4 separate regions of the Homo sapiens genome follow, and all the other regions are linked to region 1. The links come from fine-mapping of genetic effects on plasma protein levels. A gene starts in region 1. Each other region holds a variant in brackets. All regions are shown on one strand. Distances are between the middles of the regions. Region 1 holds the start of MELTF (melanotransferrin). Region 2 overlaps SENP5 (SUMO specific peptidase 5). Region 3 overlaps PIGZ (phosphatidylinositol glycan anchor biosynthesis class Z (Gwada blood group)). Region 4 overlaps MELTF (melanotransferrin).

What was found. PIP is the chance, under the fine-mapping model, that this variant and not a neighbour inherited with it causes the effect. Protein levels are from antibody-based Olink assays in UK Biobank. Linkage for the fine-mapping came from a reference panel and not from the study's own genotypes, which makes the PIPs less certain.
Region 2: its variant is fine-mapped to the plasma level of the MELTF protein (UK Biobank, PIP above 0.99).
Region 3: its variant is fine-mapped to the plasma level of the MELTF protein (UK Biobank, PIP above 0.99).
Region 4: its variant is fine-mapped to the plasma level of the MELTF protein (UK Biobank, PIP 0.98). The variant lies in the coding sequence of MELTF. If it changes the protein, the assay may bind it differently, which can mimic a change of level.

Annotation. Positions count from the first base shown.
Region 1 is chr3:197,027,502-197,032,694 of GRCh38, reverse strand. MELTF (melanotransferrin) reads left to right here and starts at 2,878. Exons shown (of 16, transcript NM_005929.6): 1 at 2,878-3,041; 2 at 4,785-4,939. The coding sequence starts at 2,993. RefSeq lists enhancers at 863-1,157, 262-1,461, 1,849-2,485, 2,486-3,122 and silencers at 2,656-3,145, 3,196-3,245, 3,436-3,615.
Region 2 is chr3:196,930,199-196,935,391 of GRCh38, reverse strand. It overlaps SENP5 (SUMO specific peptidase 5), which reads right to left. Exons shown (of 10, transcript NM_152699.5): 10 at 678-4,579. The coding sequence ends at 4,469. Among named protein-coding and RNA genes, the nearest start is that of NCBP2-AS1, 7.1 kb to the left of the region's middle. The variant AAAAAAAAAAAAAT/T (reference allele first, on the strand shown) is at 2,651.
Region 3 is chr3:196,961,292-196,966,484 of GRCh38, reverse strand. All of the region lies in intron 1 of PIGZ (phosphatidylinositol glycan anchor biosynthesis class Z (Gwada blood group)), which reads left to right. Among named protein-coding and RNA genes, the nearest start is that of PIGZ, 4.9 kb to the left of the region's middle. The variant C/T (reference allele first, on the strand shown) is at 2,074.
Region 4 is chr3:197,013,379-197,018,571 of GRCh38, reverse strand. MELTF (melanotransferrin) reads left to right here. Exons shown (of 16, transcript NM_005929.6): 7 at 1,282-1,469; 8 at 2,203-2,383; 9 at 3,056-3,207. Among named protein-coding and RNA genes, the nearest start is that of MELTF-AS1, 13 kb to the right of the region's middle. The variant C/GC (reference allele first, on the strand shown) is at 2,332.

The sequences.
Region 1 (5,193 bases):
AACCCATCAGCAAGAGTGTAACATCCTCTGACATCACACTACTTCAGGTGCTCACACCCCAACAAGTCAGCAAGAGGGTAACATCCTCTGACATCACACTACTGCAGGTGCTCACACCACAACCAGTCAGCAAGAGTGTAAAATCTTCTGACATCACACGACTGCAGGTGCTGACACCCCAACCAGTCAGCAAGAGCGTAACATCCTCTGACATCACACTACTGCAGGTGCTCACACCCAAACTTTCTCAGGGCACACCAGCCTTCCAAGGGTTCCCCAGAATAAAAACTATTTGGCTTGTTCTTAAAGACATTGCGGGCCATAGAAATAGACAGACAGAAATTATGATTTGTTGAAAAATATTTTTTCCTAAGTACAATATTTTACTTCGTTTTGGGTAAAGGATTTCACCCTTTGCTGGCTCATTAGCCACTACCTGCTGATGGACCTTCTCAGTCTCCTGTCAAAGGCCCCCACTTTCTGAGGCTGCCTGTAGTGTATTCCCTCCATGGGATGTACTGTTCCTCGATTCCCTGACAAGCAAGCTCAATGCTTCTGGGCACTCTGAATCCTTGGAGAGCCAGAGCTGTGTCTTTGGCAAGAGTGGAGAAGAGCTCTTTTTATTTCATATTATGGGGTAGGGTCAGGGAGACTCAGGCAGAGCTGCTTAGGCCCCAGAATCTGATCGAAGTGTCAGTGAAACCAGTTCCTTTAGTCTGTATGCTCTCCCTCTAATCTCAATATGAGTCTAGAATGGGGACCAAACTAACCTCAGCTTCTGCTCCTCCAGAAGGCTGTTTGTGGGTTAAACTACTGGCTTATTACTCTCTCATTACATCCCACCCATTTCTCTGGCACACCCAAGTATGTCCGGACCCCAGAAATGGCAGAATCCTGGCTCAAGCTGAGGCAGACTTCCCCATTCCACAAAGGTGATGCGCGTTCATGCCAACCCTGGGCCAACGGGCCCGATGTAGAATCCCTGAGAACCCAGAGGCAGCAAGTTCACTGATGAGTCACAGCTGAATGACACCCAAGAGATAAGGGAAGAACTTCATTGTGAAAGAGCCCAGCAAACCTCTTAGGTTATGGTTGTTCTCACTCCCTATCAGCGTCACGTGGAGTTTTGCCAAAGGAAGGACTTAGTCATCAAACAGATCCTGCCAGTCATCTGGTGGCTCCTGGAGTGTGCCAACTGAGCCTTTCTATCCTCGTGGTCAGGAGAACGAGGCTTGTTAAGGACTCTTCTATTTATTCCATCTTCTTAGGACAAGCCATCAGCCCCTCTAGCAAGGCTGCCTGCTAGTCCATTCGGCACCTTTGTGCAAACTAGGAAGAAGGGATCCATCTGGGGGGATGGAGAAACAGCTTCCACAGCACAAGTCCTCCAGAGCAGACAGGAGACGGAAAGTATGGCACGTCACGGCCATCATGACCTACCTTTTACATGTGGGGAACAAGCCCAGAGAGGGCGACGAACTCGCCCAGGGTCTGTAAGTCGCTGGTTTTTAAAAAGTAGAGCTCGAGTCTCCTGAAGCCCAGCCCATGTTCCTTCCCCTGATCCAGTGTGTGATAAGCAGTAGCTTCATGGCCCCATAGGAGGGAGGCCTTCCTTCCCCAGGGCGCAGAGCAAGCTCAAGGACAGACAAACTCAGAGGGATGTCTTCTCTCTCACTGTTGTACTTACCCATGTCAGAGAGAGACATCATTTCTGAGTCTCAGAGGGGCTGATGACATAAAGGTGAGGCCTAAATGGAGGCAGGTGACTAACAATGTCTTCAGTTCATTCCCCGCATCCCCAACCACATGGGGAGTGCCGCTTTTGCCCGCCTGCGACAGTGGTTCTCAACATTTGCTGTGCCCCGAAATAAAAACAGATTGTGGGCCCCGCCCCCAGAGCTGTCGATCCAGTGGGTCGGAGGTGGGGCCTGAGCACTTGCATTTCCAGCAAGTTCCAGGGTGATGCTCACGTTGCTGGCCTAGGGACCACACTGAGAACCACTGTCCTAGAAATACGGTCAACCCACCCTTTCCTCCCTCACCTTCTTCACTCTCTTCCTCCCCTTCTCCGCCTGTTTCTCCTTTTCCGCTTCCTCCAATTCCTCTCTGGTCCTCTTCTCACCTTCCAATCAGCTGGCTCTGCCACTGACTGGATGCCTGACTCGGGCAAGTCACCTCCCGTCTCTAGGCCCGAGGAGAGGCAGTCGGCTAGGCCGAGATGCCCCTGCCCGGCTCCCCCCTCGCCAGGGCGCTCGGCCTGGGCTCCCCCGTATCCCAGATCCTCTGTGCAGCTGTGGCCGAGATGCCCCTGCCCGGCTCCCCCCTCGCCAGGGCGCTCGGCCTGGGCTCCCCCGTATCCCAGATCCTCTGTGCAGCTGTGGCCGAGATGCCCCTGCCCGGCTCCCCCCTCGCCAGGGCGCTCGGCCTGGGCTCCCCCGTATCCCAGATCCTCTGTGCAGCTGTGGCCGAGATGCCCCTGCCCGGCTCCCCCCTCGCCAGGGCGCTCGGCCTGGGCTCCCCCGTATCCCAGATCCTCTGTGCAGCTGTGCTGGGAGGGAGCTGCTGCGTGAATGAGATCATCCTCCAGCTGCCCTCCAGCCCCGACTCTGGGATTCTGACCTCTCCTTCCTTCCACGTCTGAGCTTTTCTCTCTCCAGTTAGACACGGTATCTGGAGTCTTTCTAGGGCGCGAGGAGGGGAGGATACCCTGGAACGCGGGGTAGGAGGCTGAGGCGAGAGCCCCGAGCAGCGGCGCCCGGGCCCGAGCGGGAGGCCTCCAGCAGGGGGCGCGCCGGGGCCGCCCAGGGGCGGGGTCCGGGGTCGGCGGGAGGTGACCTGCGCCCCAGGGGCGTGGATTCCGCCCGGGAACTCGCGGCCGCACTTAAGGAGCTCGGGCCAGCGCGAGGGGGAGCAGGGAGGAAGCCCGGCTGCTGCGGACCTCCTCGGACCCGGACCCAGCCCCAGCCCGGCCCCAGCCAGCCCCGACGGCGCCATGCGGGGTCCGAGCGGGGCTCTGTGGCTGCTCCTGGCTCTGCGCACCGGTGAGGCCCCGCTGTGAGAGCCAAAGGCGGGCGGGGGTCCCGGGGCGCCGCGGCCCGGCTGAGCAGGTCCCGGGGCTGGAAATGTGCCTGAGCCTGCGGCTCCGGGGCAGTGAGACGGGGGAGGCAGGGGCTCGGGGTCGAGTGAGGACGGCGGAGGGAACTAGCACTGAAGCGCAGACGGGGAAGTCTGGAAGGCTTCTTGGAGGAGGCGGCCTCGAACACCCGAGGCTTCCGACGCTCCAAGGAGAAGCGCGGGCTGAGGCGTGGTGGGGAGGCCTCGGGGTGTGGAGAGGAGCTCCCGGAGGGCGGCCCCTCCCGACGGGCGCAGGAACTCAGGAAGACTTTGGGGGCTCGGAGCAGCTCTTTCTCCCGAGCCCCCGCGGGAGAAGATTCAGAGGGACTGACCGGCAGGCGCGGGAGTCCGCCCGGGGGTTTCTGGCACATGCAGGGATGGAGGTGGAGACGGAGGCCGGGTCCCCTCGCGTCGGCGCCCCGGGGAGTCAGGGCCCGGGATGGTGGGACGGGAGGCGGGACCTCGGGGAGCGGCTCGCGGGGATCGCGGGCGGCGACCGCCGAGGGGATGGAGTTCGTGGCACCGCTGTGGCCGCAGGCGACGCACTCATCAATGCAAACGATGAAGCCACCGCCACCCCCGCCCCGTCTGAACTTTGCAGTTTCCCGCCTGGGTGGTGGGGGGCTTGGAGCGCTGCGGAGGGGAGGGCAGTTCGACTTCCCAGGCCTCCGCCAGGAGTGGGGAGGGGAGGGCTGTGGCGGAAGCTTCAGTCTCGGCCCTTGGGCTGGTGGGGCTGCCACGGGAGGGTGACCTGGTTTCGGGCGGAGTCATGCGTTTCCCTCCCTCCTGCACAGGCCTCTGGCAGTGCTGGCTGGGGCAGGGTGAATGGCAGAGGAGCTCAGGCCTGAAAGTCATCGGCCCCAAGGGGCTCCAGCACCCCTTCCTCTGGGCCCCTAGCCTGGGAGCTCTCGGGGACTCTGACCCGGTCAGATCCTGAGGCATAAGCAGAAGTCCACTGAGGATGTGGGTGTCTCAGGCTCTCTACAAGGGGGTTTACTTTCAACACAGAAGGTGGGGTTTTTATCTGCTCTCTCAGAAGATGAAGCAGGCTCAGAGAGGCTTGAACCTACCCTGATGGGTCCTCAGCCTCCCCTCTGTGCCTGCCGTCTTCCCTTGGCAGGGCCTGGCACTGTGCCCACCGAGGGTGGCTTTGCAGCCAGCATCATCGCAGACACTCCCCGAGGGGACAGGGCTCCTGGAGGGCAGCCCACCCACAGCCCCCTCACCTCACTCTCCCGTCCCAGTTCATGAGGAAGGCCCAGGGACACTGCTGGGTGAGGGAACCTACACGAGCACCCTCTTCGGGAGGCCTGGAGAGGGGAAGAAGCTTCCACTTCCAGGGCCTGCCGAGACTCCCTAGCCAGTGCTCCCACCAGGTGGGGGTAGCTGAGAAGCGACCTGTAGACCCTCCCATTCCTCCATAAAGGGCCGGGTTCTGAGCCATTCCATTTGCCAGCAGCCGTGCTCCTGGTCAGAGAGGCCCTGAGCACAGGAATACCAGCCCTTCCCCTGTCTCTGCGCCTAGTGCCTCCCTGTGGGAGGGCAGGGCTGCCCTAGAGGACTGGCTGTCCAGGCGAATGGGCTCACACAGAACTGCTGGAGCCACCCTCCATGGTGGGCCGGGGCTGGGCAGGGCGGGGGAGCCGGGCCTCACGGTCCCCTGCCCGCAGTGCTCGGTGGCATGGAGGTGCGGTGGTGCGCCACCTCGGACCCAGAGCAGCACAAGTGCGGCAACATGAGCGAGGCCTTCCGGGAAGCGGGCATCCAGCCCTCCCTCCTCTGCGTCCGGGGCACCTCCGCCGACCACTGCGTCCAGCTCATCGCGGTGAGTCCTCTCCCTTCCACCCTGCCAGACAAGAGGGCTGTGACTCAGGAGGGAGCACACAACAGCCCCATTCACCAGGAAAGGAGCCGACCTCGCCCTGCCAGGCCCGGCCGATAGGATCTCCCGAGTCTCCCTGGCCACGAGGCCAGCTTGCCTCCCGCCGGGCCCAGGCCAGGAGGTGGGAGCCTCAGGAGGACCCGCTGCTCAGAGGGCGCCAGCAAAGAAAGGCACCTGAGAGGCTTCCCTTCCACAAG
Region 2 (5,193 bases), 97 kb after region 1:
GTTTCCTGGCCTATAAAGAGGGTTGTGTTCTGGAATTCCTGTACTCTGGATACACATGAATGAGTTCCAGGGGGATTCTATGAATAGTGTGGACAATTCGCGTGTCCATTTTGATTGACTGACAGTTGGAAATAACTATTGCTGCGTGTGAAGAGAGCGCACAGATTTTCTTGTGAAAGTGATCAAATAGGCACCAAGCAACCTCTACTGATGGAAGAATAGGTTAGTTTTCCAAAAAACATGCTCTGGATGATTGCAAGGGAAGGGAAATTGTGGGTGGATTAAGAACATCTTATGTTTCCTGGGCTAGAGAACACTAAATGTGAGTCTCTTTACTGCACCATTCTTTCCTATTTCTCATGGATAGCATCTGACCTGTTTCTCACTTTAATCGGAGAAAAGTGAAAATTCAAACGTACAGATGAAGGCATCACTATTAATACATGTTAGTGAAGTGTGAGAATTAAACATTCAGTTTCTCAGTCAAGCTAAGATGAAGATATAGAACATTTCCGTTGTAGAAAATTCGAGTGATGGTGCTGCTGCTCTGAGGGTGAGCTGGTTAGGGCCTGCACTGCTCACTGTTCTGAAATGACCTCTGTCGTGACTGGAATGTCACAAGAAAAAAATTACTCCTCGCCAAACAGTACATGTTACTCAAGACGAGAGAACACAAGTTTATAAAGGCATTTAGTTTATTTTTCAAAAAAATACTTTGCTAGAAGGGTTGAGTACTGTAATTTTACATGATCATAATCTCTAAATAAATTCTTTTTCTGACCAACAGGTACCAGTTAAGTGAACAGCTCGTCTAGGTCTGCTTTTGTAACACCCAAATACAATTAGCACTTCTCTGCTGGTATTCCCTGGGCCGTCTTAATTATCTAGAGGCCAGGAGGCAAAGCCTAGCACGTAACAAAGTATGTGCTTTGTAACTGCTGATTAATTCAGTTTCTTAACTAGGCAGAGCAGGTCATCAGTGTATCTAATTCACACTATTAATACACTGTCTTGCTGAAGAGTCTGACCTGCCCAGAACCCCGTTATGGCTAGCCCAGGGAAGCAGTAAACTGCAAAGCAGAGAAAAGGGGCAGCTAAGATGAGGCTAGTGCTGGCTGAGTCCCAGTTAGGTCTGTTACTGTTCTGTTCCAACTATAAATCCAGGATGACTGTTACTCAGATTCAGTGCTATGTAGAAAATAGAATGCACAGCCAAAAACATAATTTGGGGATGACTGGCAGCACCTTTTTTTCCCTTTCTTAAGAGGCTAACTGAAAGTTGATTAGGATTCTTGAGAGAACGTAACTAAAAGTTGAATCAAATCTATATTCACTGCTATAGATTTAATAAAAGGAAAGACCACTGTAAAGATGCAACTACAACCTGATGCGTCTGCTGAGGAGAGGACTGGGCAGCTTGTTGAAGGCTCGTCAAAAGTAGCGCTTAGTTATCACAAGGCCTGCACTCAACCTCAAAAGCGTAAGGTTTAGGCCAGGCACGGTAGCTCATGCCTGTAATCCCAGCACTTTGTGAGGCAGAGGCGGGTGGATCACCTGAGGTCAGGAGTTCCGAGACCAGCCTGACCAACATGGCAAAACCCTGTCTCTACTAAAAATACAAAAATTAGCTGGGAGTGGTGGCGCACACCTGTAGTCCCAGCTATTGGGGAAGCTGAGGCAGGAGAATCACTTGAACCTGGGAGGCAGGGGTTGCAGTGAGCCGAGATCACATCACTGCACTCCAGCCTGGGCAACAGAGCAAGACTCCGTCTCAAAAAAAAAAAGCATAAGGTCTGCCTACCTCATGGGCACCCAAACAGTTCAGTGCCAAACTAGTACCAGTAAAGCCATGCCTGCCTCTTTCACCAACAGTCCAGAGTATATTTCAAAAATATCTTTATTAACCAAGGAAGCAATTACTGCAAACATCAGGACAAAGGACATTCTAATCTAGGACTTGAGTTAAATAGAGGTTTACACCTAATCACAAGAAGAGAGGGAAAGCAATTACGTGTGCTGAAACCAAGTTTCATCAATGACAAATATTTTAAAATGACTTTTAAAATACTTAACATTGGCCAGGCACGGTGGCTCCCGCCTGTAATCCCAGCACTTTGGGAGGCCCAGGCGGGCAGATCACTTGAGGTCAGGAGTTCAAGACCAGCCTGGCCAACATGGTGAAATCCTGTCTCTACTAAAAGTACAAAAATCGGTGGGGCGTGGTGGCACACACCTGTAATCCCAGCTACTTGGGAGGCTGAGGCAGGAGAATCGCTTGAACCTGGGAGGTGGAGGTTGCAGTGAGGCAAGATTGCGCCATTGCACTCCAGCCTGAGGGACAGTGAGACTCTGACTCAAAAAAAAAAAAAAACAAAAAACCCAAACTCAACATTTAGTCTAAGCCACACTGGGCAGCACACCTCAAGGTGCCCTATGAAGCATGAGACTGGAAGTGGAAGAGTCACTGGATTTGGGCAGCTCTCTCTCGGCGTTGATTTTCTTACAGGAACAATTCTGTCTCTTCTGCATGCCAGGTTCTGTCACTGAGGAACTGAAACACTTCCTCACTCTGAAGTACAAGACATTTTGAACTGACAGCCCAGTGACTGGCTACTTTGGTATACCACACCCCCACAAAAAAAAAAAAAAA[AAAAAAAAAAAAAT/T]CAGAGGCAAATTTCTGGCATGTTTTGAAAAATCTCATGTTTGCATAATTATGTTTGAAAAACTCATTATGAGATCTTCCTTACCCTAAACTGTCATTTTTTCCTAACGCTGACAGAACCCCACCTATAGCAGCATAAAGTGCCTCTACTCTCAGTCTTTTTAACGACTTGAAACACAGTAAGAAACACTGACCTGGTTTGACATTAAGGATTTTGGGTCTGGAGGACTCAGGAGAGGAAAGTGCTGGGGCTGCTTCCCAGTGTCACCACTGGTGTTGGGAACCCTGCATGTAAACATGGTCGGACTCAATCCTCAACTGCTGGCAGTCAGCCTTCTCAACCATACCTCAGGGCCAAGTGAAACTAAACATTTTAGCTTTTTCAACACTCCAAACCTACGCGGGCATAAACTCGAGAATCTTCTGCCATTTACTTTGTTTTTCTATTCAGACTTCTGAGTTTCTCATACATACATTGGTTGGTTTTCCTCCCAATTCAGAAAGGGTAACTGGGTAGGTTTCACATGTATCTTTCCAACATGTCACGAAAGGCTGGATTAAAGATGTGAGACGCGTGATATTCATCCTAATGCAGCTAAGTGTATGGACAAGGGCCACTTGGCCTTTCTTCAGAAGATGAGGTTCAACAGAAGGAGAAGAACAGCTGTGCTAGTGTCAGCACTGGCCATGCAGAAGCCAGACGTACCCTGCATGTTACTGAGGTCACTAATGGGACAGGAGAAAGAACCTGACACGGTTGCTGCGCTCCCATGGGACTAAGTTGTCTCTATTACCTTCCCTCTTCTCTCCAGCCACCTGCAAAACATCTCAAGTCAGTCAGCCTTCAGTTTTGAATGTTTACGTTTCAGATACCCTTGAAATAGAAATGCATTTGGTAAACCTTAACTTCTTCCAATTGGGAGGCAACACAGGGAAATGACAACTTAAAAATTACTCTGAGAACAGCTGCATTCTCATTTGTTTGACCACTAGTTTGATGGATGTTAAGATTTTTTTAACAGGTCGAAAACAGAAAAATTCAGGGAATTCAATATCCCAGCAAAAGCCTTTATGAGATGTATGCCACGTATTATAATTCCTAAAACCACGATTGAAATCTGTCATTGTTACTGGCCTCCAAGGTTGCTTTTTCTCACACCTTACTCCTCCCAAAGCAGCCACTGTGCTTACAAGTGTGCCTCCAGAAACAGAAGACACCAGTCAGTTTACGACCACTTCCATCTCACCCTTCAAAAGGAATGGACTGCACTCTCTAAGACTCACTTGGAGAGGGAAGTTGGTGAAAGTTGCCGCTGGTAAAGTAAAACAGGACTGGATTTGTCAAAACCACCCCCAGCTACCCTTAATGCCCCAGGGAACACTTACTATTCTCAGAGTTATGTTGTATCAAAAACATCTTGCATTTTTAGGTTCTGGGAGTAAATTTGAAACCTGTATTCAGTTCACGTCTAACTAAGTTTCAAAAGCTGCACCAAATCTACTAAGCTTTTTTTTTTAATACTCTTCACTGCATGCTCTGTCTATATGCATGCGTTTGAATAATAAATATTAAATATGGGGGACGCACAGAACCATAAAATTAAAAATGAAACCAAACTGAACATTAAACAATAGTACATGGTAGCTGGAGAAATGAATAAGGGCAAAAAATAAATTTGAGGTAACAATAGTGGCCCAACACCACTGATCTGAAATATCTGTAAAAATTCAACTAAGTGTTTGGAGATTCAAGTAACAAACCATCTGCTCCAACTTGGTCAGACTTCCCAGAGTCCCTGCTGAGTTTCAGTCCATGAGCCGGCACTCACATAGCTCCTTGTAAATCCTCTTCCGCACTCGGGGCATGTCTTCTTGTGAAAACTGGAAAGGCTGCTCTAAGGCGAGGCACTTGCAGTACTGCAAAAAAAAAGGTCCCAGAAACACTTCAGTGGCACTTGGAGTTGTGGACCAGCCCATTCTGTTTTACTAAATGCAGACCTAATAGTGTCTAAGGCAGAAGACCCCAACCTTTTTGGCACCAGGGACTGGTTACGTGTAAGGCAATTTTTCCACAGACTTGGGGGAGAGGGGGTTGGTTTCAGGATGAATTATCAGGCATTAGTTAGATTCTCATAAGGGGTGAGCAACCTAGATCCCTCGCATCTGCAGTTCACAACAGGGTTCACACTCCTAAGAGAACCTAATGTGGACAGTATCTGTCCGTGGCCCAGGGGTTTGGGACCCCGATCTAAGGCAGCATTTTCATGTCTGTTTAAACTACTGTAAAAATACACTGTTTTAAGCATTTACCCAAATTATAGGTGACTGACCAAGCTAGTGCATGGCTTGGGATCTCCTCTCCCTCCTGACCCAATACTGTGAAAAGCAGCAACTGATGAAAAGGCCTCAATTCCTCCCAAAGTGCAACCTGCTGGAGTGCAGCTAGACCCATCATGGCCCTTAATGGGAACTTGAATTTGTTTATAAAACCCCAAACATGCATGAGGTATACAAACGAACCGGTCTTCCAA
Region 3 (5,193 bases), 66 kb after region 1:
TAATCAGACAACAGTCAGCGCATGGCGCCTGCAGAGTTTTGCACAGGGTCCTTCAGAAGGAGGGTTAGGGAAGACTTCTTGGGGGTTAGGGCAGTTAAGCAAGATGGATAAAGAAAGCAACCACTTATGTCTGCATATTTTCTTCATTTCATCTTCACAACAGCCCTGAGATAGGTACTTGTTTTAAAGCTGAGGTATAAATTGGGGTTCAGAGAGATTGAGTGCTTTCACCATGAACAAGTGACAGAGAGCAACGACTTGAACCGGGTTACCTGATGCCACCGCTGGTCTTAACCTCCATGTTATTAGCGTATTGGGTAAGTGAAACCGTGTGAGCCAAGAAGCTGGGGTGAGAAACAGCACGGAATAGAGGAGAGGGCTGCAGAAAGGCGTGATGTTTCTGGAGCACCGAATTCTACTCACGAACACAGGAGTGGAGGCGGGAAGGGGACACTGGAAGCTATGGAGGGCCTTGTCAGCCACAGTAAGGAATGTGGACCTGGTCCTCAGGGTGGTGAGGGGATGGCCCCCCATCCAGAGGTTTCTCACAGGGGAGTGATTCGGCCTGTCTCTGCCGCAGTCAGAAGGAAGGATGCAGTGAGAGAGGGAAAGTGGAGAGGCGGATGGCGGTGCAGTCTACTCCAGGTCATGCTTCTTACCATCTCCCTCATTATTCATCCACAGAAAATGATTGCTGTTATATGACACACTGGTTAACAAAGGAGGGGGCTGTTTGCAAACAGAAACAACCAACCCAGGGCCTCCAGCCATCCAAAGATTCTGCACAGCCAGCCACCCCTAAGGCTAAGAAATCCCAGGTACATGCACACCAGTCACAGCATACCTGGACTCAGACAATGACAGTGGAGAATGAGGAACAAGAGCTGGGTTCAAGGAATAATTAGCAAGCAACGTTGGCATTACGTAGTGCAGGGACAAAGGAGGAGGGAGATAGCCCGTGGGATTCTGGACTAAATTGGGCAAATGGTATGACATGGTTAGGCTTTTGTGTCCCCGCCCCAATCTCATCTTGAATTGTAATCCCCAAGTGTTGAGGGAAAGACCCGGTGGGAGAGGATCGGATCATGGGGTGGTTTCCCCCACGCTGTTCTTCGGATAGTTAGGGAGTTCTCATGAGATCTGATGGTTCCATAAGCGTCCGTCATTTCCTCCACTCACACTCTCTCTTGCCACCTTGTGAAGAGGTGCCTGCTTCCCCTTCCGCTATGACTGTAAGTTTCCTGAAACTTCCCCAGCAATGTAGAACTGTGAGTCAATGAAACCTCTTTTATTTAGAAATTGCCCAGTCTTGGGCAGTTCTTTATAGCAGTGTGAGAATAGATTAACACAGTAAATTGGTACCAGGAGTGTGGGACACTAATACATGGTAGTTTCCTCATTGCTGTAGGGAGCATGGGGACAGGGCTCATTCCAGGGAAGGTGATGAGTTCTTTTGGGCTGCCCTGTGTTTGAAGCAGGTACAGAAGCCTAACGGGCAGTGGAGCAGGGCAGTGGAGTCAAACAGACCGGGTCCATCTTCCAGCTCCACCAACTTAGTAGTTCCGTTACCTTTTGCAAAAAGCCTGTTCATTTGTGTGTAAGACAGGGATAAGAATAGGTTCATAGAGGCTGAGGTGGGAGGATTGCTAGAGCCTGGGAGGCAGAGGTTGCAATGAGCTGAGATCATGCCACTGCGCTCCAGCCTGGGTGACAGAGTGAGACCCTGTCTTAAAAAACAAAAAAAAGGATAGGGTTATAGACTTCCCATAATTAAATAAGATAAGGTACAAAGCCTGGAAGGTAATATGTATCTAATAAATGGCAGTGCTAGACTGGGCACGGTGGCACACGCCTGTAATCCCAGCACTTTGGGAGGCCGAGGCAGGTGGGTCATGAGGTAGGAGTTTGAGACCAGCCTGGCCAAGATGGTGAAACCCCATCTCTACTAAAAATACAAAAATTAGCCAGGCGTGGTGATGCGTGCCTGTAGTCCCAGCTACTTAGGAGGCTGAGGCAGAAGAATCGCTTGAACCTGGGAGACAAAGGTTGCAGTGAGCCAAGATCGTGCCACTG[C/T]ACCTAGCCTAGGCGACAAGCAAGACTCCATCTCAAAAAAATTAAAAAAAAATGGTAGTGCTAGGCCGGGCACGGTGGCTCATGCCTGTAATCCCAGCACTTTGGGAGGCCGAGGTGGGCGGATCACGAGGTCAGGAGATCGAGACCATCCTGGCTAACATGGTGAAACCTCGTCTCTACTAAAAATGCAAAAAATTAGCCGGCCTGGTGGCAGTCGCCTGTAGTCCCAGCTACTTGGGAGGCTGAGGTAGGAGAATGGCGTGAACCCGGGAGGTGGAGCTTGCAGTGAGCTGAGATTGCACCACTGCACTCCAGCCTGGGCGACAGAGTGAGACTCCGTCTCAAAATAAATAAATAAATAAATAAAAATAAAAATAAAAGCAAACAAATAAAAAAAGGTAGTGCTATTATTATTGTTATACTATTCCTTATTATTATCAGTAAATCCGAAGCTCAGAAAAGAAGCAATTTCAGAAGGCATCAAGTAGAAATGGAAACCATGAGAATAAATGAGATGATCCAAAAGAGTGTATATGGAGGACATTGAAGACCAGGAACATTGACATTTAAGGGGTGGACAGAGGAAGAGAAGCCTAAGAACAAATGGCCTGAGGAGGAGGAAAGCTGTGAGAGCCCGTGGAAGCCACGTGTAGCAGCCACACAGCTAGCTGATCCTCTGCCTCCTTCCTCCTTCCTAACAGAACCTGTTGTTAGGGTAAGCTCCCACAGTGCCAGCTCCAACCCAGGAGGTGAGTCTTCATCAGTAATCTCATTTCCCTTGCCAGTGACTGGTTTGGGAAGGTGTATTTGATGCAGTTCTGTTCAACAGCACTTGATAGAAAGTCTGCTGGTGAACTTCTGGAAAAGATTTCCTTGATCTTAAAGAGAAATGCAGGTGCAAATCAAAACCACAATGAGATACCACTTCACACCCACTGAGATGGATGGAACCCAAAAGTCAGATAACAAGTGTTGGTTAGAACCGTCATACATTTCTGGTGGGAATGTAAAATGATACAGCCACTTTGGAAAACAACCTGGAAGTTTCCCCAAATGATTAAACATAAAGTTACCATAGGATGCAGGGACTTTACGTATATACCAAGAGAAATGAAGACATATGTCCACGAATAAACTTGTACACAAAAGTTTATAGTAGCACTGTTTACAATAGCCAAAACATGGAAACAACTCAGAGGTTCATCAATGGATGAATGGGCACACAAAATATGGTATATCCACACAATGGGATATCACTTGGCCATAAAAAGTAAGGACGTAGTGATACCTGCTACAACACGGACGAACCACGAAAACATTCTGCTAAGTGAAAGAAGCCAGCCACAAAGGCCTCCAGAGACTGAAGGGGGCCTGCCCCTCCACACCTGTGGGTATTTCTCGCAAGGTGGAGACGAGAGACTGAGAAAAGAAATAAGACACAGAGGTAAAGCATAGAGGAAGAAAAGTGGGCCCAGGGGACCGGCACTCAGCAAGTGAGGACCTGCACCGGCACTGGTTTCTGAATTCCCTCAGTATTTATTGATCATTATCTCTACTATCTCAGTGAGGGGGATGTGGCAGGACTATAGGGTAATGGTGGAGAGAGGGTCAACAGGAAAACATGTGAACAAAAGACTCTGTGTCATAAATAAGTTTAAGGAAAGGTGCTATGCCTGAATGTGCACGTAGGCTAGATTTATGTTTAACTTTACATAAACATCTCAGTGCAGTAAAGATCAGTATTGCCGTGCAGTAAAGATCAGTATTGCCACCAGCATGTCTCACCTCCAGCCATAGGGCGGTTTTCTCCTATCTCAGTAAATAGAATGTACGATCAGGTTTTACACCAAGACATTCCATTCCCAGGGGATCATGAGACAGATGCTTTCCTCTTAACTGCAAAGAGGCCTTCCTCTTTCAGTAATCCTCCTCAGCACAGACCTTTTATGGGTGTCCGGCTGGGGGACTATAATGTAAGGTCTTTCCCTTCCAACGAGGCCACATCTCAGGCTGTCTCAGTGTGGGGAAGCCTGGACAACACCCAGGCTTTCTTGGGCAGAGGTCCCCATGGCTTTCCACAGTGCATTGTGTCCCTGGGTACTCAAGACTGGAGAATGGCGATGACCTTTACCAAGCATACTGCCTTCAAACACATTGTTAACAAAGCACATCCTGCACAGCCCTAAATCCATTAACCTTGAGTCAATACAGCGCATGTTTCTGTGAGCACAGGGTTGGGGCTAGGGTTACAGATTAATAGCATTTCAAAGCAGAAGAATTTTTCTTAGTACAGATCAAAATGGAGTTTCTTATGTCTTCCTTTTTCTACATAGACACAGTAACAGTCTGATCTCTCTTTCTTTTCCCCATACAGACCTTACGATTTCATTCATATGGAAGTTCAGGATAGGGAATTCTATAGAGACAGAAAGAAGATTAGTGGTTTCCAGAGTCTGGGGTGGTGGACAAGGATGGGAGGTGATAACTAAATGATATGGGGTTCTTCTTGAGTGATGAAAATTTGTAAAACTGACTGTGGTGATGGTTGCACCTGTCTACGAATATACCAAAAACCATTGAATTGTACACTTTAAAATTATACGGTATATTAATTATATTTCAATAAACCTGTTTTAAAAAGAGATAGCCTCAAAAATACAGACACTTCTCAGTTTGTCATGTCTGGACGAGATGGCTGGAACTGAGGATTATGTCCACACAAAGAGAAAGGCAGCATCAAGGCTGACCTGAGAAGCGGCAAGGGACCCTGGCAGTACCAAGTCTGGTTGTTTTTTTATGTGACATGATCAATTGTTTCCTGCTTTTTCTTTTAAGAGATGGGGGTCTCGCTGTGTTGCCAGGCTGACCTTGAACTCCTGGGGTCAAGCAATCCTCCTGCCTCTGCCTCCCAAGGAGCTGGGACTACAGGGGTGCACCACCACACCTGGCAACATGATGAATTGTTGAAGCAGCTTGCATTGTTTTTGCTGTTGTTGTTTGCAAACAACTAAATGTTTTATGCAAAAAGGAGTTAATATAGGGAATTAGCTGCTTACAAAACCTTTGGAAGGGTTGGGTGATCAAGCTCTAGGCTGAATCCCCAGGAATGACTCCTAGAAC
Region 4 (5,193 bases), 14 kb after region 1:
GGGAGGCTGAGGCAGAAGAATAACTTGAACCTGGGAGGCGGAGGTTGCAGTGAGCCAAGATCATGCCACTGCACTCCAGCCTGAGCGACAGAGTAAGACTCCATCTCAAAAAGAGAAAAAAGGCCAGGTGTGGAGGCTCACGCCTGTAATCCCAGCACTTTGGGAGGCCGAGGTGGGTGGATCACGAGGTCAGGAGATCAAGACCATCCTGGCTAACACAGTAAAACCCCATCTCTAATAAAAAAAAATACAAAAAATTAGCCGGGCGTGGTGGCGGGCACCTGTGGTCCCAGCTACTCGGGAGGCTGAGGCAGGAGAATGGCGTGAACCCGGAAGGTGGAGGTTGCAGTGAGCCGAGATCGTGCCACTGCACTCCAGCCTGGGCGAAAGGGCCAGACTCCGTCTCAAAAAGAAAAAGGGGGGGTGAGGTCAAAAGACAGGAAATAAAATAGAAAAAAGGACTTGAAAGAAATCCATCGCAATATGAATAGTTGGAGTTATGGGAGATCCCCCGTCCTCTCTAGTCCTGGGGTGGGTAGATTCCTTCGGGGTTTGTTTCCACCGTGGCCCCTGCTCCGGGAGCCCTGCCCCCTGCCCCCTGCTCAGAGCCAAACGCAGTGCCTCATGGCAGCCGCAAGCTCATCCTAGACTCTTGGTACATTCATCTGTCTCACCCAAAGCCTTTCTTTTTTTTTGAGACAGAGTTTCGCTCTGTCGCCCAGGCTGGAGTGCAGTGGCGTGATCTCGGCTCACTGCAAGCTCCGCCTCCCAGGTTCACACCATTCTCCTGCCTCAGCCTCCCCAGTAGCTGGGATTACAGGCGCCCGCCACCACGCCCAGCTAATTTTTTGTATTTTTAGTAGAGATGGGGTTTCACCGTGTTAGCCAGGATGGTCTTGATCTCCTGACCTCGTGATCCGCCCACCTCGGCCTCCCAAAGTGCTGGGATTACAGGCGTGAGCCACCACGCCCGGCCAGCCTTTCTTATTTTCTTACTTTTTTTATCTTGAATAGTTATTTATAAGTATTGTATTACTGTCAGATACCTCCAATTCACTTTAGCAATAGAAATTGGTGAGAGCTAGAAAATGAGAGTAACGAGATAGAGTCTGTGTAGGTACCTGGAGTTGGGTGCGGCCACCAAGCTCTGCCACCTTCTGAATGCTGGGTTCTCATGTCCATGACACCCAGCCACCCCTCAGATTCCCTCTCCTGGGCCTTCCCCGCCACCCGCCCCAACCCCTTTCGGAGCTGGCTCAGCCCAGGCTTCCTGCTTCCCAGGGAAGACGCTTCCCTCCTGGGGCCAGGCCCTGCTGTCACAGGACTTCGAGCTGCTGTGCCGGGATGGTAGCCGGGCCGATGTCACCGAGTGGAGGCAGTGCCATCTGGCCCGGGTGCCTGCTCACGCCGTGGTGGTCCGGGCCGACACAGATGGGGGCCTCATCTTCCGGCTGCTCAACGAAGGCCAGGTGGGCTCAGGGTCCCCCAACCACCTGCACAGCTTCCTAGATGGTGCCGGGCCTTGTGGTCGCTCAGCAGGGTGGGACCAGGAGGGGCAGGACCCAGAGACTGTCCTTGGGACGGACCCCAGCATCGGGCCAGGTCAGAGTGAGGAACCGACTATGCTGGCTGGCCAGAAGGAGGGCTGGCCAGGAGAGGGGGGCCCAGAGGAGGGGGACCCAGGGATTCAGGCACCCTCAGAAGAAGCTCCTGAGACTTGTGTCTCTGAGAGCTAAAACCAAAACATATGAGCAAATAAACCAAGTAACAAAACCAGCGCCTTTCAAAGCACACCATTAATTACATGTGGCGAATAAGGTTTGGCTAAAACCGCCGCTTGTGACAGCAATAGACTTCTGACTGCTGGTGCCCCAGGCTCAGTTAGTTTTGCCCTATCCAGGCTGCTACCACCAGCCCCACGGCGTGTCCTCAGGACCGTCCCATGCCTGGCCACAGCCATGTGTCCAAACAGCTGAGTGTGAGGAGGCCAAATGAACTCAGAGTAGACCCAGAACTGACAGGGCCCAGGGGAAGGAGGCCGCAGATCAGGGGAGGCGCCGCAGAAGAGGGAGGCCTCACCTGGCCCTCAGGGTGGGTGCCTGGTCTGAGGTCGGGGAAGAAGGAGGTAGGGGCCAAAGTGGGAGGGAAGGATATGGCCTGTCAGCACCCTCACCACCCTGTACCACACCCCTTGACACACAGCGTCTGTTCAGCCACGAGGGCAGCAGCTTCCAGATGTTCAGCTCTGAGGCCTATGGCCAGAAGGATCTACTCTTCAAAGACTCTACCTCGGAGCTTGTGCCCATCGCCACACAGACCTATGAGGCGTGG[C/GC]TGGGCCATGAGTACCTGCACGCCATGAAGGGTCTGCTCTGTGACCCCAACCGTAAGTCCACCTGTCCCCACTGCTGCCAGCTCCAGCCCAGCTCAACCTCGGGCATGGCGAGGCTCTCTGGGAAAGTGGCCGGGGGAAGACGCTCACCAGGGAGGCCTCTGCGGGAACCTGTCATTTCCATTCCTCTGCCCCTGGGGCTTTGGGGAGGAGGCATCTCTTCCACTGTATGGCCTGTTGTACCTCGGAAGCCCCACCTGGCCGCAGCGGGGGAGGATGCAGACCATCAGAATCTGTCTTGGGAAGGGTCTCCTCGCCCCCCCATCCACGGCCATGGCATCCTGTCAGCTCTTCTACAGCCTCTCGCTCCTACTCCCCGCCTCTACCCCATGGCTACAGCCCTGGCGCAGGTGCCATCTTTCGCCTGGACTATTGCAGTAGTCTACAAGTGAGCTTCTTGCCTTTAGCCCCCTGGCCCCATGTATCTTCCACCTCCAGCCAGGGAAGTGGGTACCACACACTGAGTTACATGCACGCCAGCCATGGTCTTCCTCAGGCCTCACAGTTGCCCCTTTTCTGTGTGAGGAAGTGGGATCCGATGGTTAAATAACTTATCCCAGCCACACACCTGACAGGAGAAAGGCCCAGAATTTCCCTTGGGTCCGACTCCATGCTCTTCCATGGCAGTACTGGCCTGGCAGTGACCGCTTGCTTGCCCCACCCCAGGGCTGCCCCCCTACCTGCGCTGGTGTGTGCTCTCCACTCCCGAGATCCAGAAGTGTGGAGACATGGCCGTGGCCTTCCGCCGGCAGCGGCTCAAGCCAGAGATCCAGTGCGTGTCAGCCAAGTCCCCCCAACACTGCATGGAGCGGATCCAGGTGGGAGTCACGCAGGTGCAGCGTGGGCCAGGTGGGCGGGTGGTGGCAGTGCCTGGGCAGTTCTTACTACCCACACCCCCTGCTGCCTGGGGAAGAGGAGAGTGTCTACTGCAACAAGCCCACAGAGACGGGTGGGGAGGAGCGACCGCAGGGGCCAGCACCCACCCCAGGGGACAGAGACAGGCGGGGAGGAGCGACCGCAGGGGCCAGCACCCACCCCAGGGGACAGGCAGATAGGGGTGAGTCCCCTGGAGAGCCTGGGAGCTCCTCACTAAGTGGGGGTGCCAGGAGCAGAAGAAGCGCTGGCCCAGCTGGGCACTGACGCCCTGTAGCCTGGGGCAAGCCCCTTCCCCTTTCTGAATCTCAGCCTTCCCTTGTGCAATAGAGAGTGGGCGTGGATCATTGTTCGACTTTTTTTTTCTTTTTTCCTGATTTTTCTAAATAGACAAATAATAATTGTGCATATTCATGAGATACATACTGATGTTTTGATACATAGAATACATGGTGATCAGAGCAGGATAATAATTAACATACCATCATCTCAAACATTGCTCATTTCTCCGTGTGGAGAACATGCAATATCGTCCTACCTGTTTGAAACTATGTATTATTGTTAACTCTAGTCATCCTACAGTCTATAGAACACTGGAGCTTATTCCTCCTATCTCTCCTGGCTGGGTGCATTGGCTCACACCTATAATCCCAGCACTTTGGGAGGCCAAGGTGGGTGGATCACTTGAGGTTAGGAGTTCAAGACCAGCCTGGCCAACATGGTGAAACTCTGTTTCTACTAAAAGTACAAAAAAATTAGCCGAGCATGGTGGCACACAGTTGTAATCCCAACTACTTGGGAGGCTGAGGCAGGAGAATCGCTTGGACCCGGGAGGTGGAGGTTGCAGGGAGCCGAGATCACACCATTGCACTCCAGCCTGGGCGACAAGAGAGAGACTGTCTCAAAAAAAAAAAAAAAAAAAAAAACTCTCCCTATTCCTCCCTTCCCCTACCCTTCCCAGTCTGCAGCATCCTCTGTTCTACTTTTTACTTCTGTGAGATCAACTTTTTTTAGCTTCCACATATGAGTGGAACATATGGTGTTTAACTTGCTGTGCCTGGCTTATTTCACATAACACGGTGTCCCCCAGTTCCGTCCGTGTTGCTGCCAGTGACAGGATTTCATTCTTTTTTATGGCTAAATAGTATTCCACGGTGCATGCCAATGACATTTTCTCTATCCATCCTCTGTTGTTGGACACCTGGGTTGATTCCACATCCTGGCTATTGTGGCCAGTGCTGCGATAAACATGGGGTGCGGGCATCCCTTCCACAGGCTGATTGCCTTTCCTTTGGACAGATTCCCAGTGGTGGGATTACTGGACCATATGGTATTCAATAGTTCGATTTGTAGTTTGTGGAGGGACTTCCGTACTGTTTTCCATAGCGGCTGTCCGGGTTTACATCCCCAGCAACGGTGTGTAAGAGTTTCCTTTATTCTGCATCCTCACTAGCATTTGTTATTTTTTATCTTTTTGATAACAGCCACCCTAACTGGGGTGAGCTGATACCTCACTGTGGCTTTGATTTGCATTTCCCTGATGATCAGTGATGGCTGCTGGCATTTTGTATGTCTTCTTTTGAGAAACGTCTGTTCTGATCATTTGCCCGTTTTTAAGTTGGATGGTTTTCTGCTGTTGAGATGTTTCCGTTGCATGTGTATTCTGGATATTAATCCCCTGTTGGATGAGTAGTTTGCAAATATTTTCTCTCATTCCATAGGCTGTCTTCATTTCACTCTGTTCGTTGTTTTCTCTGCTGTGCAGAAACTTGTTTGTTTGATACAATTCCCTTTGCTTATTATTGCTTTTGTTGCCTATGCTTTCGAGGTCTTTTCATAAAATCTTTTCTCAGACCAATGTCCTGAAGCGTTTTGCCTATATTCTCTTCAGCAATTTTATTGTCTTGGGCCCTGCATTTAGGCCTCTCATC